7 linked regions of the Homo sapiens genome follow. The protein of the gene in region 5 purifies or fractionates together with the protein of the main gene of each other region. This does not show direct contact. Each region holds a gene or a part of one and is shown on either strand. Other genes may lie near its edges.

Evidence for each region.
Region 1: the proteins of TPP2 (region 5) and OAS1 purify together in Homo sapiens (co-immunoprecipitation; one large-scale study listed by IntAct). This does not show direct contact.
Region 2: the proteins of TPP2 (region 5) and XPO5 fractionate together in Homo sapiens (co-fractionation; one large-scale study listed by BioGRID). This does not show direct contact.
Region 3: the proteins of TPP2 (region 5) and PEX7 purify together in Homo sapiens (co-immunoprecipitation; one large-scale study listed by IntAct). This does not show direct contact.
Region 4: the proteins of TPP2 (region 5) and PAK4 purify together in Homo sapiens (co-immunoprecipitation; one large-scale study listed by IntAct). This does not show direct contact.
Region 6: the proteins of TPP2 (region 5) and TIPRL fractionate together in Homo sapiens (co-fractionation; one large-scale study listed by BioGRID). This does not show direct contact.
Region 7: the proteins of TPP2 (region 5) and ZDHHC5 purify together in Homo sapiens (co-immunoprecipitation; one large-scale study listed by IntAct). This does not show direct contact.

Annotation. Positions count from the first base shown.
Region 1 is NC_000012.12:112,905,243-112,910,157, reverse strand, and holds the start of OAS1 (2'-5'-oligoadenylate synthase 1), read right to left. Parts: upstream 3,197-4,915; 5' UTR 3,119-3,196; coding exon 2,939-3,118; intron 1,623-2,938; coding exon 1,334-1,622; intron 1-1,333.
Region 2 is NC_000006.12:43,527,079-43,531,374, forward strand, and holds part of XPO5 (exportin-5), read right to left. Parts: intron 3,747-4,296; coding exon 3,610-3,746; intron 2,299-3,609; exon of another isoform or gene 2,278-2,298; coding exon of another isoform or gene 2,171-2,277; intron 1,848-2,170; coding exon 1,750-1,847; intron 1,128-1,749; coding exon 1,081-1,127; intron 654-1,080; coding exon 556-653; intron 1-555. UniProt on the Homo sapiens protein: Mediates the nuclear export of proteins bearing a double-stranded RNA binding domain (dsRBD) and double-stranded RNAs (cargos). XPO5 in the nucleus binds cooperatively to the RNA and to the GTPase Ran in its active GTP-bound form.
Region 3 is NC_000006.12:136,911,731-136,914,948, forward strand, and holds the end of PEX7 (peroxisomal biogenesis factor 7), read left to right. Parts: intron 1-1,727; coding exon 1,728-1,796; 3' UTR 1,797-2,204; downstream 2,205-3,218. UniProt on the Homo sapiens protein: Receptor required for the peroxisomal import of proteins containing a C-terminal PTS2-type peroxisomal targeting signal. Specifically binds to cargo proteins containing a PTS2 peroxisomal targeting signal in the cytosol.
Region 4 is NC_000019.10:39,170,258-39,174,553, reverse strand, and holds part of PAK4 (serine/threonine-protein kinase PAK 4), read right to left. Parts: intron 1,637-4,296; coding exon 1,178-1,636; intron 979-1,177; coding exon 544-978; intron 1-543. UniProt on the Homo sapiens protein: Serine/threonine-protein kinase that plays a role in a variety of different signaling pathways including cytoskeleton regulation, cell adhesion turnover, cell migration, growth, proliferation or cell survival.
Region 5 is NC_000013.11:102,603,258-102,607,553, reverse strand, and holds part of TPP2 (tripeptidyl-peptidase 2), read right to left. Parts: intron 2,762-4,296; coding exon 2,633-2,761; intron 1-2,632. UniProt on the Homo sapiens protein: Cytosolic tripeptidyl-peptidase that releases N-terminal tripeptides from polypeptides and is a component of the proteolytic cascade acting downstream of the 26S proteasome in the ubiquitin-proteasome pathway.
Region 6 is NC_000001.11:168,195,241-168,199,360, reverse strand, and holds part of TIPRL (TIP41-like protein), read right to left. Parts: intron 2,815-4,120; coding exon 2,719-2,814; intron 443-2,718; coding exon 380-442; intron 1-379. UniProt on the Homo sapiens protein: May be a allosteric regulator of serine/threonine-protein phosphatase 2A (PP2A). Isoform 1 inhibits catalytic activity of the PP2A(D) core complex in vitro. The PP2A(C):TIPRL complex does not show phosphatase activity.
Region 7 is NC_000011.10:57,688,417-57,692,712, reverse strand, and holds part of ZDHHC5 (palmitoyltransferase ZDHHC5), read right to left. Parts: intron 4,206-4,296; coding exon 4,048-4,205; intron 2,683-4,047; coding exon 2,510-2,682; intron 2,379-2,509; coding exon 2,276-2,378; intron 103-2,275; coding exon 11-102; intron 1-10. UniProt on the Homo sapiens protein: Palmitoyltransferase that catalyzes the addition of palmitate onto various protein substrates such as CTNND2, CD36, GSDMD, NLRP3, NOD1, NOD2, STAT3 and S1PR1 thus plays a role in various biological processes including cell adhesion, inflammation, fatty acid uptake, bacterial sensing or cardiac functions.

The sequences.
Region 1 (4,915 bases), on a different chromosome or scaffold from region 5:
GACTTCAAGTGATCCCCCCACTTTGGCCTCCCAAAGTGCTGAGATTACAGGCGTGAGCCACTGTGACCAGCCTTCTCCCTCTTGTCTTTTACAACCATTGTACTTCAGCCCCCAACACAGGAGATGGCACAAAGGAGAGAATCCAAAACTTTCTCATACCCTGGTGTCTTTGGAGAGTCAGCATTTTTTTTTTCATGGCTGCCCTAGGACTAAAGGAAACTGTGACAGTTCCTTTAATTAAGTCCTAATTACTTGATAATTAATCACTAATTACTGCTTAATGACCAACTATTAATTAGTAGCCACTAATCAGTAAGTTCAGTTTAATAGTAGCCGTTTGTGCGGTGTGTGACAGATGTCATCGCATTTCCCTCAAAAAATTAAAATCTAAACTATTCCGTGTCCCTCTGTGAGTTCACTGTGGTGTTTTGAGGTGCCTTCATATACAGCTGGGAAATTCATAGTTTTGACTGATTGACTGATTGATTGAGACAGGGTCTTGCTCTTGCTCTGTGCCTAGGATGGAGTGCAGTGGTACATTCGTGGCTCACTGACACCTCGAATCCTTGGCTGGCCTCATGTGATCGTTCAGTCTCAGCGTCCTGAATAACTGCGACCACAGGCATGTACCACCACACTTGGCTAATGTTTTAAAATTTTTAGTAGAGATGAGGTTTCACTTTGCTGCCCAGGCTGGTCTTGAACTCCTGGGCTCAAGCGACCCTCCTGCCTCAGCCTCCAAAAGTGTTGGAATTACAAGCATGAGCCACCACACTTGGCTGGAAGTTCCTATTTTTGAACACCTATTACTCATCAGAGCTGAATGTAGATGATCATTTATCACTTAAAATAATGATATGATACAGGTAGTGTGGTTTTACCAATTCTCCTGATGTGGCAAGGGAGCCTCTGAGAGGTTACACTTCCTGTCCAAATGTTCCTGCAAATTATAAATATCTATCTCCCAACGTGCTGCATACGTTTGATGAGATCTCATGTTGGGACAAAGATGAGAGTAACATGAACTTTAAGCCACATCTTTGCTGCCTGATTTTAGAAAGATAAAATTCACACATTTTGCCTTAAACAGAACCAGTAAGCCTTGCAGATGTTCTGTAAGAAATGTCTTTGTCCCCACATTATGCCAATTTGCTGTTTAATGTCTCTCCTGTGATAGATCATGACCGTATTCATTCTTGCCCCGGGACAGATCCTAAGATCTCCTCCCACCCTGCTTTAGAGAGATGCCCTGTTGGGGCAAAAAGCTCTCAAACTGTGGGAGATTTCTGCTCAGAAATGGGAAGAGGGAGAAAAAGAAGCTGGGAGCTCTCACCCAGGGCATCAAAGGCAGGCAGCACATCGAACTCCACCCCCTCCCCGAGCTGGAGCGAACTCAGTACGAAGCTGAGCGCACGGGGGTTGCCCCAGCGTGGAGCCTGGACCTCAAACTTCACGGAAAATGCTCTCTCTCTTTGACAGGCTTCCAGCTGTCTCCTAATTTCCTGGATGAACTCTCCCCGGCGATTTAACTGATCCTGAAAAGTGGTGAGAGGACTGAGGAAGACAACCAGGTCAGCGTCAGATCGGCCTCTGAGGGTGGTGCCCTTGCCTGAGGAGCCACCCTGAAAAAGACGACAAAAATAATAATTGATGCTTAGTGAGGCAAACCTCCCTAAATAAAATGACAGGAGCAATCACTAACATTATGGAGCACTAGCCACTGTTCTGAAGGCATTGCATGTCTTAAACTCCTATAATGCTCACAATGATGCTATGATTTGGATGCCATTATCATTAGTTCCCATTTTACAGATGGGAAAATGGATGCTCAGTGAGATAATATATCAGCCCCATCACCCAGCTAGTAGGTGGCAAATACAATTCAAACCTGGGGGCCTTCTTCCAGGATCTGTGTTCTTTTCCCATTGTCCTTTACGATGCCCAGGACTAGCTTATGCTGGGTGGTTCACACTTACTATTTTACTTAATCTACACGGCCCTATGAGGTATTGAGGGAAAGTAGAGGAAAAATCAGTTAGGTAAATGGTCAAGGCTGGGCCCTGGAGGAGCGGCCTGCCTGAAACTGGCGCAGGGAGTGGGACTTACCTAAAACAAATCCACAGTTATACATACAAGAGAAGCAGCGCTTTATGCTTGCCTAGAGATATACCCACAGCTGCATAAGGTAAGGGAAGTTGCACAGCTTTACTGATAAAAAGTTTCTCAAACAGTTACAGGGAGGAGAGTGGTTTCTTATAAAAGTTTTTTGCATTCAGCTGCAATCTGGCAATCCACTCAGACTTCCCTCTCCACAGTGGAGACAGCTTTCTTCTTTTGCTTACTGAACTTTTGCTCCAAGCTCACGTTTGTGTCCATGTTCCTTAATTTTCTTGGATGCAGGACAAAGAACCTTGGGTACTAATTCAGTGAGAAGCTGCTACATTAAGGTGCACTGGCAAGACTGCAACAGTATTGGGGATTATGGCTGAGGAAATTGGAACACAGAGTAGTTAAGTGACTTGCTCAAGGTCTTGCAGCCAGCAGGTGCTATTTGCTTTCAAAACATATGATTCTTCACTGCAGAAATGGTGAGCCCCTAGCCTGGCCACGAATTAGCAAACTGTTTACCAGAGCTGGGATTCAGTTCCCTATTTCTGAAATGGGCATCGCCCAGGACAGTGGTTCATAAACTTCAGCGGGAAGTAGGGGGGAGGGTCACTTGTTAATAATAGGGATGTAGGATTTCACCCCAGAATCTATTTTAACATGCTGTGTGGATAAATAAGAAACCACCATCCCAGAAGATCTCAGCTCTCTGTACTCACATTTGCACCCTGGGTTCTAGGTTTTTGCTTCTCTCTCTCTCTCTCTCTCATTCTCAATCTCAACTCTTGCACATTCAGCCACCCCTCCCCTGGCCAGGCAGGCCTGGACTCACCTTTACCACCTTGGACACACACACAGGGTAGGAGCTACCTCGGAAGCACCTTTCCTTCAGGAACCCACAGATGATGTCAATGGCATGGTTGATTTGCATGCGGAAACACGTGTCTGGCAAGAGATAGTCTTCAATGAACTTGTCCAGAGATTTGGCTGGGGTATTTCTGAGATCCATCATTGACAGGAGAGAGAGTGGCAACAGAACTGCCTCCCAGACCTGTTTGCTTTTATCTCTTCTGCTGACTGAGCTTGGACTGCTGTTGGTTTCGTTTCCTCAGAAGGGAGGAGCTGTCTTTGCACTTTCCTTTTGCAAATCAGACACTCCCCTGATCCCAGTGCTGAATTTCATCTGCTCACTCTTCTGCTTCCTGAAACTTACCCTTTGTCCTTTAGCCAGCAACAAGCAGCCCAGCCTTTCTCTGAACTCTGCTCTGGAAATGCATTTTAACCTCCAGCCAACATAAATCTTATTTAACAGATTTTGTGTTTCCTTCTTTATCTTTTTTTTGTTGTTGATGAAATCCTTTCACAGTTGTCTGTGGTATTTTCCAGCAATACATGCCCACTGCAAAAAGAAAAAAAGTCAGAAAAACCAGGAAGTGGAAAGATCATCTATGATTCTAACACTACAAAATTGCCTCTATAAACGTTTTGATATAGAGCTTTCCAGATTTTTTTCAAATGTTAACACACACACAAACACAGGTCTCTTTTCTTTTTGTTAAGAATGGTATTATACTATGCTTTTTTCCCTTTCAATTAGTAGATTTTTATTTTATTTTATTATTTTTTGGAGACAGGATCTTGCTTTGTTATCCAGGCTGGAGTGCAGGGGCATGATCATGACTCGTGCAACCTCAACTTCCTGGGTTCAAGGGATCCTCCTGCCCCAGCCTCCTGAATACCTGGGACTACAGGCATGCGTTACTGCACCCAGCTCATTTTTTATTTTTTGTAGAGACAAGGTCTTGCTATGTTGCCCAGGTTGGATTTTATTTCTCACAGCAGTTTTAGGCTTACAGAAATATTGAGCTGAATGTGCAGAGAGTTCCATAAGCTCTCTCTCCTGCCAATAAGTTCCTCTATTATTAACAGTACTGTGATACATTTGTTACAATTGATGAATTGATATTAATACATCATAATTAACAAAAGTCCATTTACATTAAGGTTTACATTAAGGTTCACTCTTGTGTCCTACAGTTCTATGGATTTTGCCAAACATAACATGTCATGTATCCACCATTACAGCACCATGCAGAATAGTTTTGAGATAGGAGGTGGGGCTTGACTCAGGGCCAGATTGAAGACTGGCTGGCATGAGCACCAGCACCATGAACAGTTTACTCATTCCCTGGCAATGACCCAGTTACCACCCTTCTTCTAGAAATTTCTGAATAACCTGCCCTTAATTTGCACGTATTTAAAAGTGGGTATGAATGTGACTATAGAAGTGCCCTGAGCTGCTGCTCTCCAGGCACTGCCTATGGGGTGGCCCTGCTCTGCAGGGACAGTCACAGAACTGTAACCCTGCTGCCTCAATAAACCTTTTTCTTCCTCCTCTAGCTCACCCTTGAATTCCTTCCTGGACGAAGCCAAGAGCCTTCCCGGACGGTGTCCCAGTTTTGGGGCTCCCCTGCCCTGCAAGAGTTTCACTACCTTAAAATCCCCTATGCCTCACCTGTTCATCCCTCTCTGAGTTAGATCTTTCTTCTCCTAATATATGCATTCAATGCTATAACTTTCCCTCTAAACACTACTTTCACTACATCCCACACTTTTTGATAGGCTGTTTTTTCATTTTAATTTAATTCAAAATATATTTATTTATTTTGTTGAGACAGGGTCTCACTCTGTTGCCCAGGCTGGGGTGCAGTGGCACAATCTTAGCTCACTGCAGCCTTGACCTCCTGGGCTCAGGTGATCCTCCCACCTCAGCCTCCCAAGTAGCTGGGACTACAGGTACATGCCACCA
Region 2 (4,296 bases), on a different chromosome or scaffold from region 5:
CCTCCATGTCCAAGAATTTAAAACATTTCCCTATTTTGACAAAACTAGGAAGTTATTCCTAATGAATCCAAATTCCTTCTGCTATTTTTGTTTCCCCATATTCAGCTTGCAATTCATAAAGTATCCTTAGGTTGACTTAAGGACTGCCTTGCTTCTATCTAGTTATTTCTTTTGGATCTGTCAGTGTTGCTACAAACATGAACTTTTTTTTTGAGACGGAGTTTCACTCTTTTGCCAGGCTGGAGTGCAGTGGCGTGATTTCGGCTCACTGCAGCCTCCGCCTCCCGGGTTCAAGCGATTCTCCTACCTCAGCCTCCTGAGTAGCTGGGACTACAGGCCTGCGCGCCACTACGCCCAGCTAATTTTTGTATTATTAGTAGAGACAGGGTTTCACCATGTTGGCCAGGATGGTCTTGATCTTTTGACCTCGCAATCCACCATGCCCGCCGCAAACATGAATCCTTTGCATTAGTCAGGCCTTCATGGAGTTGGCTGAGCGACCAGCTCTTCTTCCAGGAAAATCCTCTATAGCCCCAGTTTCGACATGCCACTTACTGATTAGGTCCATGACTTCTCGGGTTAACATCCTCACCAGTTGCTCCTCCAGCATCTCTTGAGACTCTGGGTTTTCATCTGCAGCCTCATCTTCTCCACTGCAGAAAACCAGGGGGCCAAGTTCCACAGGAGTGCAGAAAAGGAAGGACAAGGAAAGCAGCGACCCTAATCAGACTCTCTCTGACCACTTTCTTCTCCTTTGGGTCTTCGTTTTATGCAAAAGTTGGGAATGGACAGCAGTGATCCACTGAAGGACATTATTACTAGTGACTCTGTCCAGTTGGATAGACATTACAGAATTAAAATAAGTGAGTAAGGTAACAGTAGCCCCTATGAAGGCTGGATCTCAGAGTCTGCCTGCTGGTAACAGCCTGTCCAGACAAGCCATGTATCACCTAGGCTGAGAATGACTACAACCTACTGCTCTTCTACCCTGGGACAGCAGAATCCCTGCCCGCTTCCTTTTCCCACCCCAAACCTGGCTGCCAGTTCATCCACCAAGAAGAGTGGGTAGGTATCCCTTACCACAGCAGGCTCCTTTGGTTGATAACTTGCCATTTCTGAGAAAGCCTCTGGGAAAACACAAAGGAAATAAATGCTAGAATTGGGGAAAGGATTGGAACACATAATATCTAAAGTCAAGTCCACTTCATGATTAAAATTAGCCAAGGATGATTCTAGGCATCAATGACAACTTCTGTAGACTCCACACCACAAGGTTAAAAAAAACATCTATGGTTTCTGTAACCTATCCCACATCCCTGATGAAGGTGGTATCTCAAACACCTCTTTGCTTGGAAAGAATTAACAACATTTTTAGAATTCCTGGGTCTCTAGACATACCTGTTCTCCACCCAGCTGGTCCCCCTGCTTAATTCTAGAGTAAGGATAACAGACCCAGCATTCCTGGCAAGGGTCTGTGAGCAAGCATTCCTCTTTTTACCTCTCCTCAGTTAACAGGAGGTTAGGAGCAGAATCTGCAACTGAAGCTGTCTTGTGGCAATTAAATCAGTTTAGTTCTTTGGGGGCTGCTCGATCCTACAGCAAGGATAGTCAGCTGGGGTAGAAGCTCTGCCCAGCCAGTCTGGCAGGGCTAGTAGACAACACTTCTAGGAGCTCCTGACTTGCAAAGCTCAGAAATGGCCAGAGGCCTTAATAGTACTCTTTGCTTCCTGTTCCTGACTTATCTCTTACCATATGGAGGTAGGTGAAAAGAGGTCCGAGGATGGGGGATACCAGGGCTTCATAGTGCTCTGGGGGACAGAAGAGCACCAGAGGCTTTACAAAGACACGTGCTGCAACAAGTTAAGAAATTTTAGTGCATAGGCACACATCTCTCACCTGCCAGGTGGTGGGTTGCACCCCTGGGCAGAATCAATCCCTAAAGGATTTGCCAGATGTCAAAAATATCCTGTGTTAACAGTGAAAAAATCTTAAAGTTCTTTTCCTAAAATCCTAAATGGCACTGATATTGAATTCCATTATACTCTTAGTTTAGCTGCATTTCCGTCAGGCTGCACATTATGGTCACTGGCCCAAAAAGTAGGAATAAAAAAATAGGAAGGAGGACATCCTTGTAACAAACTCTCCTTCACCATTCTCCTTATAATTTCAGGTAAGAAAGATTTGCTGGCTGCGGTGGCTCACACCTGTAATCCCAGCACTTTGGGAGGCCAAGGCGAGTGGATCACGGGGTCAAGAGAGCGAGACCATCCTGGCTAACATGGTGAAACCCCGTCTCTACTAAAAAAAAAAAAAAAAAAAAAAAAAATTAGTCGGGCATGGGGGCGAGCGCCTGTAGTCCCAGCTACTCGAGAAGCTAAGGCAAGAGAATGGTGTGAACCTGGGAGGCGAAGCTTGCAGTGAGCCGAGATCACGCCACTGCACTCCAGCCTGGGCAACAGAGCAAGACTCCGTCTCAAAAAAAAAAAAAAAGAAAAGAAAGAAAGAGATTCAACTATTAATAAGGGTCTGAATGAGAATGAAGTGTTAAAACTGCTGCTTCTGGCTGGGTGTGGTGGCTCAGGCCTGTAATTCTAGCACTTTGGAGGCTGAGGCAGGAGAATTACTTGAGCCAGGAGTTTGAGACCACCCTGGGGAACATAATACAGACCCATCTCTACAAATAATAATAAAAACTAGCTGGGTGTGGTGGTGCGCATCTGTGGTCCAGTCCAGGCTCTTCAGGAAGCTGAGGTGGGAGGATCACTTGAGCCTGCACTGAGCTTTGATGGCACCACTGCATTCCTGCCTGGGTAACACTGAGACCCTGTCTCAAAAAAAAAAAAAAAAAAGTGCTTCTAAAAATACAGAAAAGGGATAAAAGTTTTATCTTTCACAGCTGGGCATGGTGGCTCACACCTGTAACCCCAGCACTTTGGGAGGCTGAGGCAGGCGGATTACTTGAGGTCAGGAGTTTGAGACCAGCCTGGCCAACATGGCGAAAACCTGTCTCTACTAAAAATACAAAAAAATTAGCTGGGCGTAGTAGCATGCGCCTGTAATCCCAGCTACTTGGGAGGCTGAGGCACATGAATCACTTGAACCCAGGAGGTGGAAGTTGCAGTAAGACAAGATCATGCCACTGCACTCCAGCCTGGGCAATAGAGCAAAACTCTGTCTCAAAAAATAGGAATAAAAATCAGCTGGGCGTGATGGTGCACACCTGTAATCACAGCTAGTTAGGAGGCTGAGGCACAAGAATAGCTTGAACCTGAGAGGCAGAAGCTGTGAGCCGAGATCATACCACTGCACTCCAGCCTGTGCAACAGAGTGAGCAAGACTGTCTCAAAAAAAAAAAAAAGTTTTATCTGTAATAATTCCGAGAAGGGGGAAGGTAAAAATTTACCCCTAAGGAAAAGTTTATGGCCATCTGGACTGCCTTCATGTTTTCCCTGCAATCTGCCAGTGTTTTTAATGACATGATACACTTAGATACATAATCTCATCTCTTCCTTCCAGTTCTGCCTCTTCCCTCTGGTTGCTGTGACCTGTTTTGTTTCTCTCTCTAATTTTCTGACCTTTTGGGTTATGTAGAGACTTTTGAAAGGATATGAAGCATGGGTCTGAGTCGGTAGTCAGGAATATTGTTCAAGTTGACAAAGGCTGAGCTGAGAAGCTGGGTAGCAAGGTCCTCCACAGTATAGAAGTCTTGCTGCATGGAAGGGCCTGCCTTCCCTAGGATATGAAAACTGTAAAGGGGAAAAAAAGAGCATTGAAAATGACAAATCCAACATCTGTTACTGCCAGCCCTGTCCCATGAATTTCATTTCTAGCCTACAATAAGGTTTTTCAGCCAGAAGAGCAGTTGTATTTACTTAAGAGAACTTATAGATACAGCATCTTTTTAAAGACAGATGTTGGTGGCCGAGATCAGCAGTAGCTTTCATTACTATTTAATGTGGACTTACAATGGACGATCTCATTAGCTTGGCTGATTAGTGTAGTGGTTAGTGAGGCCAAAGCCCATGAGGGCCAGTTACCTCCCCAACCCACAACCAGTATCCAGCCACCCGACTCCTATGAGAAGTATGCCGCAAGCAGTGTAGGGTCTAAGCAATCCCCACCACTTTTAGCTTCGACTTGGGTTTCATCATTTTATACACTAGAAACACAGACAAGTTGGGCATGAAGCAGGCTGGGATTGTGAGGCTCATATGACAATTACAAAAAAAGCAAATGCAGGAAAGCAGGCTTTCATTTCTATTTAACACTAGAATGATAAGTTTCCTATCAAACTCT
Region 3 (3,218 bases), on a different chromosome or scaffold from region 5:
GAATGAAGTTGCTATGAACATTCGTGTCTACATTGTTTTGCAAACATATGTTTTCATTTTTCTTGGACAAATATCTGGGAGTGGAATTACTGGGTCAAAAGATAGGTATGTGTTTAACTTGGTAAGAAACGGCCAAATTGTTTTCCAAAATGGTGGTACCATATACCTTCCCTACCAGCAATGTATGTGATCACAGCTGTTCCACATCCCTGCTGACATTTGGTGTTGTCAATCTTTAATTTTAGCCATAATGTGAATATATGGTGGTATCTCATTGTCATTTTTATTTGCATTTCCCTAATCCCTAATGATGTTGAGCACTTTTTTATGTGCTTACTTTTGCCCATCATTTTTCATTAGATTGCCTTTTATTATTGAGTTGTATTGGTTCTTTATGTATTCTTGATACAAGTTGTCAGGTGTATATTTTATGAATATTTTATATAACTGTGTCTTGCCTGTTCATTTTCTTAACAGTGTCTTTTGATGAGCAAAAGTTTTATTTTTGATTGAGTGTAACTTACCAAATTTTTGATTATTACTTTTTGTATCCCTAAGAAATCTTTACTTACCTCTGTATTGAGAATATATTTTCCTTTTTTTTTTTCTGAAAGTGTTATACAGTTTGCTTTTATATTTAGGTCTGTGGTGCATCTCAAATTCATTTTTATGTGCAAAGTTGGGGTCAGGATTCACTTTTTTCCCTATGGATATTCAGTTGTTCTGCCACCATTTATTGAAAAGACTATTTTTTCCTTTTGCTCTTTAATTGTTTTGGTACCTTTGTTGAAAGCCATTTGTCCAAGTGTGGGGCCTATTTCTGAACTCTGTTCTCTTCCTTTGATCTACTTGTCTTTATCCTAATCCTGCACAGTCTTGATTACAGTAGTTTCGTGCTGAGTCTGGAAGTCAGCTAGTGTTAAGTAGTGCAGCTTTGTTTCATTTCAAGATTCTTTTGGCTAAGTCCTGGCATTTCCACATAAATTTTAAAAATTGCCTCATCCATTTCTATTAAAAAACGAGTATATAGAAACACAGTGGTTTTCATATATTAATTTTATACCCGGAGACATTGCTATATTCACTAAGTTTTTAATGCATAGTTCCTGAACACCCTGGACTTTCTTCCCTTCATGTTTTCCTATGGCTCTGTAGATGTGAATGTCCTTGTCTTTTATGTCTGCCTCCTACAGAGGTCCAGTGGGAATGCCATGGCATTGTGAAGTTGTCTGACACTGTCCCAGCTGGAATCATATAGTCCCCCTAAGAGTCTCTGTTAGTGCACCTTCCACACTCAGTCTTGAATGAGCCATTTTTTGAAGGCAAGAGCTTTACTTTATCTTCCTCTCCAGTCCCACAATATTGAGCACAGCATCTTGTTCACAGTCTGGAACGTATCTTTTCGACATTTATATCAGATAGTAGGGAATTATGTAGCTGTTGGGTGAAGTGAAGGTGGGGGACATTCTTATAGGAAACCTCAGTCAATTGAAATATACCAATTGGAATATACTCAATCAATGGGAATCAGTTGGAATACCCTGAGGTATATCCTAAAAAGGGAATATGGACCTTTTATCAAAAACGTAGCCCTATGTTTTCCCTATTCAAAAATATGTTTACTAGTGGATGATTTACGACACTCTAAATGACTTGAGTTTTTGCTGTCAATTTTGAATTTTTGTATGTCTAAATACGTTTCTTCTTACTTCATTTTTGTTTTCTAGGTGGCTGACTGTTCTTGGGATGAAACAATAAAGATCTATGACCCTGCTTGTCTTACTATTCCTGCTTGAGATACACTACTTTGGTCAGAAACAGAGGATGTTGGCTGAAGAACTGCCTAACAGCAAATAAATTAACTATGGAAAACATAGACATTATGCTTTTATATGCTATTCAGATTTCAAATCTTTCCAATTTACCCTGGAATCAGTTTTGAGGGAGCTGATAAAGACTTTAGCTGACTCGTTAAGCCTGATACATAAGCCATATTTAAAATTCTAAGAAATAATTAATGTTATGATATATCTTGTAGTATCTATTAAAATGTCTCTGGGTCATAAAATGGATTAAAATATGGGAGATCAGTAGGTTATACTTATATAGATAGTGATATATTTCATTTTTAATTTGTCATTTTTGATGTAAAATATAATCACTGCTGTGATAAATAAACTATCTATTGATCATTTATCATTTTATAACTTCCCCCAAAAGACTGCTCTTTCTAATACATTGTATATGTGAATATAGTACTATATATAATATAGATATATCTGTGGTTCAGTAACAGGACACTAGAATATATTTAATTTATTCTTTTATTTAGTAGCTGTTTATTGAGCATCTACTCAGTGCTTGACACATAGACTCAATGAGATTCTGTCAAGGACTGGTGCCATGTTTTTAAGAACATGGAATGCTGTGAGCTAAGAGCTTACTTTTTTTTTTTTCTTAGAATTTATTCACACATTTTTAGATATTGTACCCATGACTCTATAATTTTGTCTTCCCACTTCTCTAATATCAAAATTTTTTTAAACTGTCAATTAAACAAAAAGTTTTAGGTCCTACTAAGGCTTCTAGCTTTTGCCCTTGAAACCAGGCCTAAGTACAGCTATACGTGCTCCTTGCCACCTCCCTAAGTTTTCTTGAAAAAGCTCTAGGTGCAGATGAACTGAAAAAAACAAAAAAAGTTGGTTAAAGAGGAAAAATCAGCAAAACAAACTACTTTGCATAACACTTATATTTTCTACATAATATTAAGATATGCTATAAATAGCAAAGATTATAATTCTTAAGTTCTTTTTAAAGAACAAAATACGCTCATAATAATCAGAGCAAAAATAAACTAAAATATATGTATATTGTCTTCTTTATAGATTTCCTTGTTTACTTGTTGCAGAAAAAATTTAAGACAGCTTAAGATATAAAAACAAAACAACAGCATAAATTAAGAAGTGGAACCAAAGACAGAAAGTGGAGGCAAGAGTGGGGCTTGAGTATACATACCTCAAAGTCCTGTAAAGTTACTACTGACTGGGCCAAAGATTTGCCGCTAAGGTTTCTAGCTTCATAAATAGGAAATCTGAACAGTTACACAGTTCAGTGCCTATGGCCTAGAGGGCAGACTCTGTCCTTGTGCCAGGCTTGGCCCTACCACCCTGCCTGGCACAGGCAACAGAAGGGGCTCAGCATGGGGCCTCACTATGTTG
Region 4 (4,296 bases), on a different chromosome or scaffold from region 5:
ACTGTGATGGGCAACGGGGTCGAGAGGGGCCTCACACACCCGGCAAAGGGACCTGGGCTTCCTATCGTCAGGGTGCTACGGGGCACTGCCAGGGTCTCTAAGGAGGGACGGGGAGGGGGTGGGCCTGAACGTCAGAAACATACTCTTGGTGGTTGTGTGGGCTGTGCCGAGGGACACCCAGGAGTGGAGGCCAGGGCGGGGCACAGGGAACCCAGGAGGGGCAGGTCTGGAGGACACTGTACCCTGGAGCCCAGGCGGGCCTCAGTGGGTGCGAGGGGCCTGGAAGACACTGGGTCGGGGGTCAGTGGCCCGAGGAACCCTGGGTCTGGGGCTCAGGGACAGAGATGTGGGTGAGGGTGCTGTGAGGACAGAGGCAGGGACCCAGCTGGGGCGGACGAGACGGCCTGGGGAGGGAGAAGAGTGAGGGGAGGAGGGGAGCCTGGCCCAGCACGGAGGAGTGCAGGGAGAGGAGGGAGGAGGGGAGGGAGGGTGGGAGGGAGGGGTGGGAGGACCAGCAGGGCGGCAGGGCAGCAGCGCCCGCACCTCGTTGAAGAGCAGCTCGCGCCTCTGCTGCTTGCGCAGGTCCATCTTCTTGACGGCCACCAGCTTGCCCGAGCTGCGCACGGTGGCGATGCACACGATGCCCGTGGAGCCCTCGCCAATCTTGATGAAGTTGTCCAGGTAGGAGCGGGGGTCGCCTGGGTCCACCACCAGCTGCAGGGCAGCCCGGAACTGCTCATGGGATACTCGCTGTGGCTCCCGCTGTGGTGAGCGGGGGCCAGGGGGCCCAGGAACAGCAGGGGCGGCGGGGGTGCAGGCTGGAGGGGCCAGCTGGGGCTCTGAGGCGTGGGGTCCCAGCACTCCAGGGCTGGGGGCACCTCGGGCTCGGGTGGGAGGCCGGGAGGAGGAGGAGGAGGACTGGGGGATGGCCAGGCCCCCCGCTGATGGCCCGTTAGGGGCCACGTCATGAGGCTCCCCCTGAAACAGAAGAGAGGTAGCTGTCAGTGATGGGTGCCAGGGAGCAGCTCTGCTCCCTAAGCAGGAGAGAGACCCAGCGATGGGACAGACACATGGGTGGTCAGGATGAGATGCACGGTGGTGGGGCGGGGCTGGAAGGTGGGGACAGAGGAGCAACGGGCAGGGGACAGTGGGGGCCCTGGGGCGGGGGATGGGTTACCTGGGCACCCCGGGATGGGTGGTCCGTGTCAGCCCTCGGGTAGGTGTTAAAGGGCCGGCCAGCTGCCAGTTTCGCCCCACTGGCCAGACCAGCAGGCTGGGGGGTGCCGACATCAGGCCCGGAGAGGGGGCGTTTGTCCCGGGAGGACTCCTGGGGACCCCCTGAGCCCTCCCTGGAAGACTTGGGCCTCTTCTCTGGCCCCGCCCGTCGCCTGTCACCACTGCCGCCACCCGCCTCGCTGTGACCGGCGAACCGGCCTCGGCTGCCTGCCTTCCCTGGGCCCCCTCTGGCCGTGGTGGCCGGCTCCTCTGGCATCCCATTTTCCTGGCGGGCACGGGCGGGCGGCGGCGGGCTGTCTCTCCGCAGGGAGTTGGAGCGTGTCACCGACATGTTCTCAAACTCGTCCAGCAGCAGCGTGAGGGCCCCATCTTTGGCACCTTTGCTGCCCCGCACGATGGTCTGGGGTCCCAGGCAATGGTGGGTGGGGGCCCAGCAAGGAGTGGGGCACACAGGACGTGCATCCGACACGCAGGGACAGGACAGCACGACACACACAGAGACAAGACAGAGACGCAATGAAGAGATGCCATGGAGTGACAATGGCATGGGCAGTGCAGCCCCTCCCCTCCCTGGGGACACAGCTGCAGGGGCCAGAGGAGTGATCGCCATGGCCAGGCTGCTGCCCCCTGGGCTCGGTGGGACCCTGGAGAGGCCCCCCTTGTTTTTCTCCTGTTCCTCACACTGGTGGAATAGTCCTGCCCTGAGGGGTTTGGGGGAGGAAGGGCAGAAATTGACCCACCCCATAATCAGCCCCGAGGGCTGCAAATGACAGGGCGCTGGGGCCAGGGCCTGGCCTGGCACTTCCTCCCATGTGGGCGCCAGTGTTCCTTAGCCCCAAAACCACACTCTCTGCTCCCATGAACAACAAGGAGTGGGGGACAGGGAGAGTCAGAAAGGCCTGGTCCCAAAGTAGAGGGCAAGGGGGTCCCAGGAGCCGGGTGGCAAATGCAAATGCAGATGGGGACCAGGCAGAGCATCCAGTGCATCCCGAGTCACCCGGTCCCCACCCTCTGTGGTCTGAGTCGTGTCCTGCAGGCCCCCTCTGCCCCCGTTCCATTTCCAGACACACGGGTGTCTCCCCCACCCCCGCCCCCCTGCGCCCAGGGCCTCTCCGCTGGCGGCTCCCTCTGCCTGGAACATCAGCTCTCAGGGTCCCTGTGGCTCCCTCCCTCCACTCCTTCAGGTCTTTGCTCAAAACTCAGCTTCTCAGTGAGGCTTCTGCTGGCCTCCCATCATCTAAAATGCCAGCCCCTGCCCTCCCCGGCCCCTGCCCTGCCTGCATTCTACCTAGAGCACCTAACAGCAGCTGATACAGAGCACACAGGCATCTGTCTGCTCCCGGCTCTGCCTAGTGCATGCTCTGGGCAGGGATTGTTTTTTCCTGTCTGCTTCGGGTCCTGCTCCATCTCAGCACCTAGACCAGCATCTGGCGCACAGCAGGGGCTCAGTGAACTTTTGCTAAACCACGTAGTGAGTGAGGTGTCTGTGCAAAGGCCACAGTGAGCTGAGAACGTGGGCCCTGCTGACAAGGACCCTGCCCGGGGCTGCCAGATGTCCTCCAGCCGGAGGCCTGCCTCTAATGTGTGGAAAACACTGATCCCACGAAACCCGGACCCTGCCTGGGGCTGCCAGGCATCCTCCAGCCAGAGGCCTGCCTGTAACGTGTAGAAAACACTGATCCCACAAAATCCGTGGTCTGCCGCTGCCCTGTCTCTCCTGGCCGTGGCTGTCTGCCTGAAGCCGGGCCTTGCCCAGGGGCCCCAGGAAGTCAAGGTGGACACAAGGCCAGACTTTGCTGTTAGAACAGGGCGTTGAGGCAAGAAGCAGTGGCTCACGCCTATAATCCCAGCACCTCGGGAGGCTGAGGATCACCTGAGGTCAGGAGTTTGAGACCAGCCTGGCCAAAATGGCGAAAACCCGTCTCTACTAAAAATACAAAAATTAGATGGGCATAGTGGTGGGCGCCTGTAATCCCAGCTACGCGGGAGGCTGAGGCAGGAAAATCGCTTGAACCCAGGAGGCGAAGGTTGCATGAGCCGAGGTGGCGCCACTGCACTCCAGCCAGGGAGACAGAGCAGGAATGTCTCTCAAAAAAAAAAAAAAAAAAACCAACAGGGAGTCGAGAAGGTCCTGGGAGGCCTGAGGCCCGGTCAAGGGCAGCAAACACAAGTGCCTATGGGGCCCCAGGACAGTGCTGGCCACAAGGCCCCATGTGTGAATTCAAGTGCCCTGCCTCCTGCTGGGACAGTCACAGGCAGGCCTCACATCTGGCAAGCCAGGCAGGGGCTGGGTTTTTGGAGACACCTTGGTGGGGGCAAAGCCTACATGCAAGTGGCCACAGAGCCAGGCAGGGCGTGGAGCTGAGGTGGGTCGGGTGCGGCCTGTGGCCCAGAAGAGCCAGTGCCCTGCCCGTGGAGGCAGCTGCCACTCGCCTCCAGCTGGTCTGTCACCAGATGCCAGAAACGGCTTTGGAAGTGAAGTCTGTCACTTTCTCAGTGGAGGCAAAGAAGTCAAAGCATTCAAAAGCACCCTGCAAGGACCACACGGACCCCTCAGTGGGCTACCACATTGAGGCTGCACTTGTGTCTATGGCCAACTTGTGGGCCTTGGGGCTTCTCCCCGCCAGGCTGGGCTGGGCACCGGGAGGGTGAGTCCCCAGGCACACCCATCTCCACCCGCTGGATGCAAACCTGGCCGAGTTCCCCTTGGCCTGCGGCCCCTCCTGGTCCCCACTGACCATGGGAGAGAGTCCAGGCTCCAAGGCTGGCTTCAGAGGCCCAGCACGGGCTCAGGCCAGGCCAGCCTCATGCCAGGCCACACCCAGACACCGGCTCCACAACTCTTATGATTTCACATGGAGGCAGCAGAGGGGTTAAGAGCACGGGCCTTGGAAACAGACATTGGTTCAAATCCCAACCTTGCCATTTTGCTCTAGATGGCAGGAAGAAAAAAAAAAACCCAAAACCAAAAAGCCCCCAGCGTTTCACAGGAGTGATTTTCTCCACTAAAGCCCGGCTTCCCCAGCATCTGCTGGAATTTCTCCTCCTCCTCCTCAGCCC
Region 5 (4,296 bases):
GCCTGCAAGACTTACTAGGAATTCTCTCTAGCTTCTCAGAGTACCATAGCTCACAGGAATCCCAAGTTTCCCTTTGAAACATATTCTAATAACAAGGTTGACTTGGGGGAAGACAGGCCAAACTCTAGAGTAATTCAGAAGGCTGAGCATTTCTAACCCGAAAATCTGAAATGCTCCATTGACCATTTCCTTTGAGTGTCATGTTGGCACTCAGAAAGTTCTGGATTTTGGAGCATTTCGGATTTTGGATTAGGGAGGCTCAACTGGTATATTCAATGCAAATATTCCAAAATCTGAAACCTAAAACACTTCTGGTCCCCAGCGTTTCAGATAAGGGATTCTCAACCCGCACCGTAAACTGGATGACTCTGACAATTGAAACTTATTTTTTCATAGTTCTAGGGGCTGGAAGCTCAGCATCAGGGTGCCAGCATGGTTGAGCATAGGTGAAAGCCCTCTTCCTGGCTTACAGAGGCCACCTTCTTGCTGTGTCCTCATATGCCCTAGAAAGAGCTTGCTCTAGAGAGAGCTCTCTGATGTCTCTTCTTATAAGGGTACTAATCCTATCCTGAGGGGACACATACTCATAACCTCATCTAACCCTAAATACCTCCCAAAGGCCCAACTTTCAAATACCAACACAAAGAGGGATAGGGCTTCAATGTATGAATTTTGGCAGGGGGTGGGGACACAGATAATCAGTTCCTAACACACAGAAAAGGAAGTAGAACCTGGATTATTAATGGCTGCTATCTGCCCATGACAGGCAGATTTCTAAGAAGACCCACGTCCCTCCCCTAAGTGAAGGCAGGACCCGTGAATATAATGAGATGTCACTCCCATGATTGCGTTATGGTACGTAAAGAAGGTGTAGGGATTTTGCAGACGCAATTAAGGACTCTGAGCAAATCAAAAGTGACATGATTCTCAGCGGGCCTGAACTAATCAGGTGAGTTCTTTAAAAGAAAGACTGGGGTCATCACCAAGGTCAGAGATTCTCTTACTGGCCTTGAAGAAGCAAGCTATCATGAGTTTTACAGCTGCAATGAAATGAATTTTTCCAACAATCATGTAAACTTGGAAAAGAAGCCTGAGCCTCAGCTGAGCCTTTAATCTTGACTGCAGTCTTGTGAGACCCTGAGCAGAGACCCACAAAAAGCCATGCCTGGACTCCTACCCCATGGAATCAGTGATATAATAAATACAGGAATACACAAGGTTTTAGGCGGCTAAGTCTGTGGTGCTTTATTACACGGCACAGAAAGCCAATATGCTGCCACAACAAGCTTACTTAAAAGACAAGACCTAAGAACAATTCAGATAGATGGCAAAAGGTGGGAAAAGCTAACTAAATAACCATAATTTTATGTTCCAAACTAATGCTGCTTAAGAGTACAGGATCACAAATTCTTGCCATCCATCCTTCATGCTCCTTAGCTCATGAGCTCCTCTGTGCTTGCTTTATAATTATTTTTTACGTTTAGCTTACCCAGGCCTTTCTACCAAGGACATAGAATAAGACAAAGCTGGTAGGCCGAGTGCCCTGGCTCACGCCTATAATCCCAGCACTTTGGGAGGCTGAGACAGGCGGATCACAAGGTCAAGAGTTCGAGACCAGCCTAGCCAAAATGGTGAAACCCTGTCTCTACTAATCATACAAAAATTAGCTGGACGTGGTGGCGGGCACCTGTAATCCCAGCTAATTGGGAGGCTGAGGCAGGAGAATTGCTAGAACCCGGGAGGCGGAGGTTGCAGTGAGCCAAGATTGCACCACTGCACTCTAGCCTGAGCAACGGAGCAAGACTCTATGTCTCGAAAAAAAAAAGAAAAAAAGAAGTTTAAAAAAAAAAAAAAGACAAAGCTGGCCATTTAAGTTAACAGCTACTATAGCCTAAGTATTTCTTCATGGTCAAGTTAACTGGGAATACTATGAAGGGACAGTAAAACATGAAGGCAAAGCTATGATGTGGTTACTTTCTCTATCTTTGTATTCAAAACATAAAATTTGGCAAGCTCACTGAAAAATACCGCCCAATTCTAATTACCTCATCAAACAACAAAATAATGGCTTCTTCTAAGACAGCTCCAATGATTCATTTCTTGTGAAATCCCTTCCCCTTAAGTGTGTGCTAGATTTATTAACTCACTTCCAATGAGCTCAATATAGTCAAGTGATAGGTGGTCCCTTAGAAGGTCACTTTTATAAAAAGCCTGTGGCTTTCATCGTGGGGACTCTCTCGGCTCACTCCCCCAGGGAAGGTGCTGCCAGGTACTGCAGCACTGCGGAGAGGCCCAATGGCAAGGAGCCAAGGCCTGCCAGTGACCCACCAGTAGGCTTGGAAACAAACTTCCCCTTCTTCTCCCAAGCTGAGCCTTCAGCTGAAGTCACAGCCATGGCTAACCATTTGCAACCTCCAGGGCGACTGGAACCCCGTTAAGCCACACCCAGATTCCTGACTCACAGAAACTCCGAGGTAATAAATATTTGTCATTTTAAACCAGGATGTTCTGAGGTAATCTGATATGTGGCAATGGATAACTAATACCACCACCAAATGTAAGGTAAAAACATTAGATGCTTTGAGGCAAGAGTAAAAAAAAAAAAATTCAAAAAGAAGACAAAAGGTCTCACCTTAAGCACTCTTCCTGAAAGGCCAACAATCTCACCATCCTTTGGCTCTACTTCTGTAGCAGTATTCACATCGCCACTTCCTGTTGTATCAATGATATCAACGATTTTTGGTTTTCCATCAGTTGTAACCTGAAAATTAAGAAAATTAAAATATGAATGGTAGATTTTAGGTTTTTATTCCTAAACAATGCAAATCCACATATATATGTGTGTGTATATACAAAATCTACATTCACTTAAAAAAGAGAACTGAACTGTTTTAAGCCAAAAGCCTGAACAAATACTAGTAAGAAAATTTAATCGTGGAAACACTACAGAATCCTTCAAGTCGTTTCATATATTCAATAAACAAATATTTACTGAGCATTTACTATAGACCACACCCTATTTTAGGTGCTGGGGATATGGCAGTGATCCATACGCAAAAATCCCTGACGATCTTATAGCGAGAAAGCAGTTCAGTTAATAACAAAGTAAAATAAAGAACATGTCAGATGTGCTATCACACTGGGTATTAGGGAAAAAAAAGAACATGTCAGATGGTGAAAATTAACTATGGAGAAAAATTAAGCAGGGAAGGGAGATGGTCAGTGTGGGGTTTTCAACATAAGTTTGGCTGGTCAAGGAAGGCCTTGCTGAGATGGTAACATTTGAGAAAAGATCTAAAGATGGTGAGCTGTGGGCTGGACAAGTTTAGAGCTTTAGGGGGAAAAAATGTTTAGTAGTAATGGTACCATTTAATGGCACCATTATTGGATGCCACACTAGCACCTCAAACGCAACAAAGTTCAAGCTTAACATGCCCCCCACCACCTGATTTTCTCCAGGCTTTGCCATCCCAGGAATCCCCACGCCCAGCTGTTCACACTGGAAACTTAACAATCCTCCTCTGATTCTTTACTTCAGTTGACTCCTCACAGCGAAGCTAACAGGAAATCCTGTTAATTCTTTGTCTAGAAGAGAGCTCAAATCCATTGCATTTTCACTACCACTATCCTAACTTTCCAAACCACCACCATCTCTTGCCTCCATGAGGTGAATTACCTAAGTGGTCCCTCAGTTTCCACTCTTGGCCCCATCAAAAGTAATACAGGCTGAGTGACCCTAACCTGAAAATTCCAAATGCTCCAAAATCATGGACATGAAGTTCAAAGGACATGTTCATTGGAGACTTTCGAATTTGCGATACTCAACCTGTATTAAAACAAGCTGTATTTTATCAGTCCTCTCCTTTAAGCCCATCAATGTATTCATGGAGCACTCAGAATACTCGCATAAAAAGCCTCGCACCATCTGACCCCTGCCACCCCGTTACTCAGGAGTCTAACCACGCCAACCTCCTTTCAATTCCTGAAACATGCCAAACTTTTTCCTGCCTCATGACTTTTTAAACAGGTTCCTTCTGCCTAGAATTCTTTATCTCTTCAGTTGTTCCACAGGATTCTATCTTCTCTCAGTTTTCTATTAAAGTCCCTCCTGCAGAAAGGCCTCCTCGATGACCTCCTTTAGGTAGCTGCCATCCTAAACTGGATTATTTTTTCTCACTGTACCTCATTTCCTTCACAGAACATAATTCTATTTCTAATGATACAAGTAGGTGATCTTCATCTGTTCCCCCTATTAGAATAGAAAGCTCCATGAAGGCAAGAGCCATGTCTACTTTA
Region 6 (4,120 bases), on a different chromosome or scaffold from region 5:
GAATCACCACATTTTCGGAAGAGAAAAGGAGACTATGTAGAAAGAAATAAGGCGGCAGGGTGGTAAGTGTAAAGAACATCCATCACCAGCCAGCTATGTGACTCAGAGTAAGTCACACCTCTGGGTTTCAATTTCTCTAGAACAAAATGTGAAAATTAGATTAGATGAGGCTTAAGTACCTAGCAGCTCTAAATGTTCTTGTATTTGAGGTAAGGTCAGAAAAGTTATGCTCCCATAGAATTTATCCTATAGAGCCCCATTAGGTGAATGAATGGGTTTAGGGATGTAAACTTGGGTGGTTGGGGTCAGGGGTATATGCTACTTAAATTAAAATGAAACATTAAAATTAACTTCTAAAAACTGAAATTTAAGTACTTGCCATCAAACTAGAAATTTTGCTTTCTCGTGACGTATATTCTCGTAACATGTAGGTCTTGTCAGCCTGTATTTAAAAATAAACAGTTGCAATAAATTTAATTATACTGATTTACAAAATCCTTTGTATTAAAAACAGACTGCCTACATTTTAGGATAGGTTGTCAAAACAGCATGCAGTCTAAAGAGAACATCTTGTTCTACACTGAGATAACTCCTATTTAACTCAAATTGGATTATTATTTCCAATTTCTATACATTATAATGATGATACACATATGTAAACAGATTTTATAATTACCATGTAAGAGAAACATAGCAAAGATTTTACTTTGAAAGAATATGTATATAAATGAATAATGTATATAATGAATTTGTATAAATGAAATATGCAAGAGATTTTAAAATTACTTCAAGTTTGAAACATCTTTCCCTTAAGCTATCTTATCATTTACCTACGTAATTGTGCTACTTTTATGTTGCAAAACATGCTTTAAAATTTTTATTCTTTCCCATTCCATAAAGCTCTTACCAAATAGCTTACTTAAAATCACCTTTTTTGTACTTCAATTTTTCCCATTTAAGATTTTTGGTTAGGTTTTAGAACAGCAACTTATTATAATTTACTTCTTGAAACACTTTTCAATAAAAGAAAAGCCACAAAATTATATGCCTTTAAGGTTTCACTCTCTTGTATTAATAAAAACAGATTAATAGTCACTGTAGGAAAAAAATCAAATAATATAAAAGTATAAATCATCAGTGATCACAGCTTATAGGTAACACTATCTTTAATACTTAGAAATCTCTACAGAGAATCTTATGTAAGTAGATTCATACTTGCTTTTGAAAGTTCAACACTGAAATGAATATCTTTCAAAATTACTTAAATATCAATCTCTGCAACCAATTTTAATAATTATATATTTTATACCATATGGATATAAACAATTTAATTAATGGCCATTTAATGGGCATTAAGTTCCTACTTTCCTTCCTTTCTGCTATTATAAACAATACTACTGTGAATATTCATGTACGTATAACTCTGAGTAATTGCCCAATTAATATTAGTAGATTATTATATAAAAGAATCTTTTTAGGATAAATTCCTAAAATTCAATATTGTTTAATTAAAACAGTATTTTTAACATTTAGGCCAGGAGCGGTGTGGCTCACGCCTATAATCCCAGCACTTTGGGAGGCCGAGGCAATTGGATCACTTGAGGTCAGGAGTTCAAGACCGGCCTGGCCAACATGGTGAAACCCCATCACTCCATTAAAAACAACAACAACAAAATTGCCAGGTGTGGTGGTGGGCGCCTGTAATCCCAGCTACTAGGGAGGCTGAGACATGAGAATTGCTTGAACTCAGGAAGCAGAGGTTGCAGTGAGCCAAGATCGCGCCACTGCATTCCAGCCTGGGCAACAGAGCAAGACTCCATCCATCTCAAATAAATAAATAAAAATAAAATTTAGATTTCTCTTTCTGGGGAACAAAAATATAGCTTATGTTTAGTACTTTGCCACCACTTTTAAAAGAAAAAAGGTCTATCACTATAACCATGTTATTTCAAGAAAAAATCCCTAAGTGAAGGGTTTAGAAAGCATCAATCCAATCCTATCCTACTAGGTTCAAATTCCAATTCTGCCACCTACTAACTGTATAACTTAGGTATGTTTCTTTTTTTTTTTTTTCTTTGAGACAGGGTCTTGCTCTGTCACTGCAGCCTCAACCTTCACCAGCTCAAGCAATCCTCCCACCTCAGCCTCCCAAGTAGCAGCTAGGACTACAAGTCCGTGCCACCATGCCTGGCTAATTTTTTGTATTTTTAGTAGAGACAGGGTTTCACCATGTTGGCCAGGCTGGTCTCGAACTCCTGATCTCAGGTGATCTACCCACCTCGGCCTCCCAAAGTGCCGGGATTACAGGCGTGAGCTACGGCGCCCGGCCTTGGCCTGATTAATATATTAATGTACTTCCTGTATATTAATGTACATCAGGACATTACATAAACAACATATACTGTAAACAAAGGTAAGAGTTAAAGGACAGTTTTCTTAAACATGGATTAAGTACATACAAAATTGTCTCAAAAGACCCCTCCCCAATTAGGGAGTGTCTTTTAGAAAACATTTTGAGTCACCAGAACCTTTGTAAAAGGAAATGTAATGTTTTGATGATAGCCTGCAGTCAACAGTGAATGTGAAACACTCAGACTTAACAGTTAGAAAGACTGCCATATAATATAGATTGTTTAATTTCAAATTCTCAGATTGACAATTAAACAACACAAACAAGCCCAGTATCAATTAGTATATTCATTAAACAACAATAAATACCTCATGGTAAAGTCTCGTGTCATTCATTCTGATAAGCACCCCATCAATTCTCAAGAAAAACCGCAACAGCAGGAAAAAGCTAGAAGGCATTACTCTCTGGAAAAAAAAAAAAAGGTACATTAATATTTTAATAAAAATTAAACATTTTATTACTTTGCTGAAAGAAAAAATTTGAAAACAAAAAACAAAAAAACCCTGGAATAAGGCTGAATTCACAGTTTATAAAAATCTCTCAACTAGAAGCTCTTTGTCCTAGCTCCAACTAGCCTCAAAACCTTGTGCAAACTATTTAACATCATAGTTTCGGTTTCCTAAAATATTTTTTCTAGGTGAGGAGATATTGAGGTTTAAAAGACTTAAAAACATACCCAAGTAATGTAAAAATTATAATGTTTATTTCAAAAAATGGCAGGTACTGATAGTAAATGTCAACACCAATAAAACCAAAATGAAAGAACAACCTAGTTCTTTGTCACTACTCACCTATTCACTTTACATAAAACAAAGCAACAGACCTTACACAGAATGCTCTAATTCAGTGCAACCTGTAGGCACTATTACATATTGCTAAAGACCTGGTTTATCAGAACACTATAACACATTCTTAACATCTTTCATCTGTGGCACATCTACAAATTCCTCTGCTTTCCAAGTATAACTACTAATGATAGGCAGAATCAGTGGAGAAAGTATGAAGGTGGGTCCTGGTGGCGGGGAGAGAGCGGTTGAATGGAATGTGAGGTATTTGGGTCTTTAAAATGAATATGTTTAGCTGGCATGGTGGCTCACACCTATAATCACAGCAGTTTGGAAGGTTGAGGTGGAAAGATCACTTGAGCCCAGGAGTTCAAGACCAGCCTGGGCAACAGAGTCAGACCCCATCTCTACAAAAAATACAAAAAATTAGCAAAGCACGGTGGCACAAGCCTGTAGTCCTAGCTACGTGGAAGGCTAAGCTGGGAGGATGGCTTGGGCCTGGGAGATAGGCTGCAGTGAGCCATGATTGTAACACTGCACTCCAGCCTGGGCAACAGAGCAAGACCCTGTCCCAAAATTAATTAATTAATTAAAATGAATATGCTTGGCCATTTGCTGAATAAATACCTATTGTCTACTAACACCAAGTTCTTACTATAGTAAGTCTTGGATTTATATAAATGAAAAAATAGAATCCCAATGCTCAAAAAGGTTATCAGCCAGGGAAAGGTCAAACAGATGTGGTAGCTGCTATAATGGGTATGCACAAGGCTCAATAAGCATTTGAGAAAGAAGTACCTAAGTCTGCTGAAGAACATCAGATAAGACAAGGCTTGAGCTGACCACAGAAAGAACAGCTAGAGATGGGAAGGAGAATTTCAGAAAGGGGACCTGCATGTACAAAAAGTACTGAGACATGAAATAA
Region 7 (4,296 bases), on a different chromosome or scaffold from region 5:
ATAGGTGTACCTGGGTGCTGGAGAACTGCAGAGAACACGGCTGACATTGTTACAGCAGCCATTGGTGAAGGGGTTCACACCTCCCCGGAATTTACCCGTAACCTAGAGGGAGAAAAAAAATACCAGGTTAGAAGATGAGACCTTGACTTCCAAAGGCCAAAATACAAATCTATTACAAGTTATTGTGCACTCACTATCTGAGGGCTATGCAAATGAGTAAAACACAAGAAATTTATATATGTTATGGTTAAGAGCAGGGAATCTACAGTCAGGGTCCTTAGTTCAAATCCTAGGTCTACCTCATGGTTGCTGACCCAAAACCTCAGTTTCCTCATGTAAAATGGGATAGCTTTCTAAATATTGAAAACTAAGATAAAGAATAAGCAATTAAGGGCTGGGCATGGCAGCTCACACCTGTAATCCCAGCACTTTGGGAGGCTGAGGCAGGTGGATCACCTGAGGTCCGGAATTTGAGACCAAACTGGCCAACATGGCAAAACCCCATCTCTACTATAAAAATATATAAAAACTAGCCGGGCATGGTGTCAGGCACCTGCAATCCCAGCTACTTGGGTAGCTGAGGCAGGAGAATTGCTTGAAGCCAGGAGGCAAAGGTTGCAGTGAGCCGAGATCGTGCCACTGCGCCCCAGCCAGTGGGCTCCAGCCAGTGGGCTCCAGCCTGGGTGACAAAGCGATACTCTGTCTCAAAAAAGAAAAAAAAAAAGCAATTAAGGTTAGCTACTATTATATGCACAAAAATCATTGCTTTCCTGTAAGCAGCACTATAAGCTTCTTGAGGGCTAGCCTAAGTCTTTCATTGTTTCTATAAACTCAGAGCCTAAATTCTCCAGTATCCAGTGGGCATATAGTAAATGTCTGTTAACTAAGAAGTGGCCTCTATTCTTTTTTTTTTTTAGGAAGATCTTAAATATTTATATGTATATGAACATATATGTACATATACATATGTCTTGCTACACTTTAAATTTAAAAATCTATTAATATGATTTTTGACAAACTAAAGAAAGAATACTATTATTTGGATACCAAGTTCTATGGTGAGTATTGTTTAAAAAACTATCATCTTATTCTTTATGCTATATTGTCTAGTTTCAGTTTGGTTTGGGTCTCTCAATTGATATTTCAGGTGATGATGCCAAACCATCCAAGACTTTCTTTGGAGATAGATATTATTTTGTTATAAAATATATTTTTAGGCTGGGCGCAGTGGCTCATGCCTGTAATCCCTGCACTTTGGGAGGCCGAGGTGGGCGGATCACGAGGTCAAGAGATCGAGACCATCCTGGCTAACATGGTGAAACCCCGTGTCTACTAAAATTACAATAAATAAATAAATAAATAAAAGATATTTTAGCACTTTGGGAGGCTGAGGTGGGTGGATCACCTGAGGTCGGGAGTTCGAGACCAGCCTGGCCAACATGGTGAAACCCTGTCTCTACTAAAAATACAAAAATTAGTTGGGCGTGGTGATGCACATCTGTAATCTCAGCTACTTGGGAGCCTGAGGCAGGAGAATCGCTTGAACCCAGGAGGCAGAGGTTGCAGTGAGCCAAGATCACGCCACTGGATGCCAGCCTGGGCGACAGATCAAGACTCTGTCTCAAAAAAATAAAAAATAAAAAAAGATATTTTAGGGCAAAATTCAGCCTTTATCTCTATTGTCTTAGTATCTCTTTGAGAGTATCTTTATTATTATTATACTTACAGCTCTAGGGTACATATGCACAACATGCAGGTTTGTTACATATGTATACATGTGCCATGTTGGTGTGCTGCACCCATTAACTCGTCACTTACATTAGGTATATCTCCTAATGCTATCCCTCCCCGCTCCCCCTGCCCCACAACAGGCCCCAGGGTGTTATGTTCCCCACCCCGTGACCAAGTGTTCTCATTGTTCAGTTCCCACCTATGAGTGAGAACATGCGGTGTTTGGTTTTCTGTCCTTGCGACAGTTTGCGCAGAATGATGGTTTCCAGATTCATCCATGTCCCTACAAAGGACAAGAACTCATCCTTTTTTATGGCTGCATAGTATTCCATGGTGTATATGTGAGAAATGGCCTCTATTCTTACATGGCCTCTACACTTACATGAGGAACTAGGACTACCTCACTCCCTACCATTAATCTCTACATAATCATGAAAAGTATTCATTAAGCATCTCTTTGTGGAAGCACTACACTGCACACTAATCAGAAGGCTAAAGAGACATGACCTGCTCTTCAGGGGTCTCTCGTCACTTTTCTCCATACCTGTTCATTGGTTGTGCGTCCCCTGGCCACCAGAACCACGTGAAATCCCGTGAGGCCAGCTACAGGGATGAAGAATAAGCCAGCCACACACATTACTGCCATTCTGATGCCAAACAATCAAGGAGAACAGAGCAACATGACCTCACTTTCCCCGGCCCCTACTGCAGCCATTTTCCCTTTAGCCCTCATTCCTCCCCCTTCCAATCCCACAATCTAAAAGGCCTTGAAGGATACGTGACAGCCGTGCGGACCCCTGAGAGTTCCTCTATGTGGTAGAGGACATAAAGGAGGCCAAAGCCAAACACACCCATAATGTGGGCTGTCAGGGAAAGGAGGAAAAGGAAAAAATAACGGTAGTTCCGGCGACCAATACAGTTATTCACCCAGGGGCAGTGATGATCAAATTCCTAGGGACAAAGAGAGACAGATGAGAGGCATCCCTGGACCATAGCATTAAATTACTTCTGTCAAGAAGAGAAACAAATGGCAGCTAAGTTTTGATCATGGTCACCAATTAGTTCAAAATTAAATCCAGTTTATTTTGCTCTATAAATCTGCAAGGGAGACCTTCCAGAGGTTGGTCAAAGGCCAAGGCCAACCAGGCGTAGTGGTGCACACTTGTAGTCCCAGCTACTTGGGGGGCTGGGGCTTGAGCCCAGGAGTTCAAGGCTGTAGTGAACTATGATGACTGCCTGTGAATAGCCACTGTACTGGGCAACATAGCAAGACCCCATCTCTTAAAAAAAAAAAAAAAAAAAAATTGGCCGGGCGCGGTGGCTCACGCCTGTAATCCCAGCACTTTGAGAGGCCGAGGCGGGTAGATCACGAGGTCAGGAGTTCAAGACCAGCCTGACCAACATGGTGAAACCCCATCTCTACTAAAAATACAAAAATTAGCCGGGCGTGGTAGCGCGTGCCTGTAATCCCAGCTACTCAGGAGGCTGAGGCAGGAGAATCGGTTGAACCCGGGAGGCGGAGGATGCAGTGAGCCGAGATTGCGCCATTGCACTCCAGCCTGGGCAACAGAGCGAGACTCCGTCTCGATAAATAAATAAATATATATATATATAAAAAAGACCAAGGCCGGCTCTCAATGTTTATCCTATGTGACCAAGGAACTCTAAAAGTGACGAATGTCAGAGGTTTTGCAGAAACATCAAGATTCATAAGAAAAGAGGATTAGAAGGAAGATTTGGCAGGTAACTGCTTATAGCTAAGTGAAAATGGAATGGAAAAAGGACAAGGGATGCAGAAGGACAGGCAGGAAAACAACTACAACAAATTGAAACACAACAGCATGATTTTCTGGAAGAGAAAATGCAAAGCCAGGATAAATAACCAAAACTGAGCCAATAGATAGAAGGCTAGAACTATAAATCTTGGTGTCAAGAAAGCCTACACCCTGCTAGTGCAATGGCTCATGCCTGTAATCCCAGCACTCAGCACTCTGGGAGGCCAGGGCATGAGGATCACTTGAAGCCAGGAATTTGAGATAGTCCAAGCAACACAGTGAGACCTCATCACTACAAAAAGTAAAAATAAATAAAAAAGAAAGCCTATGCCCATATTGAGTTAAAGCTTCCCTCCTGCAATAATATTTATGCTCTGCCTCTCATGCCATGTCATTATTAACACCATTTGACAGAGCTGGACCATGTGGCCAACGTAGTTAGACAGGACTATACCACATCCAAAGCTAAGAATCTATTATATGGTTAGGATGAAGACAATGAAGGTTAAGCATGAAGTCTTACCCCACCCAGGGTGCTTACCTCCACACAGTTGTCACAGACACTGCAGTGGGAACATCGAGGGGGACGGTAAAAGCGGCAGGTGGCACACCATTTCATGCGCACCTGGATGCCCTTTATCTCCACTGTTTTGTAAAGGGGAGCTCGGAAATCATCTTCCTTGTCCTCATCCTCCTCAGCTGTAGAGAGGAAAAGTCAATTAAAAACAACTATGCCAGAACTGTAGTAAGTGCTAGGGATTCAATGATGTTTAAAATATAGCTTCTGCCT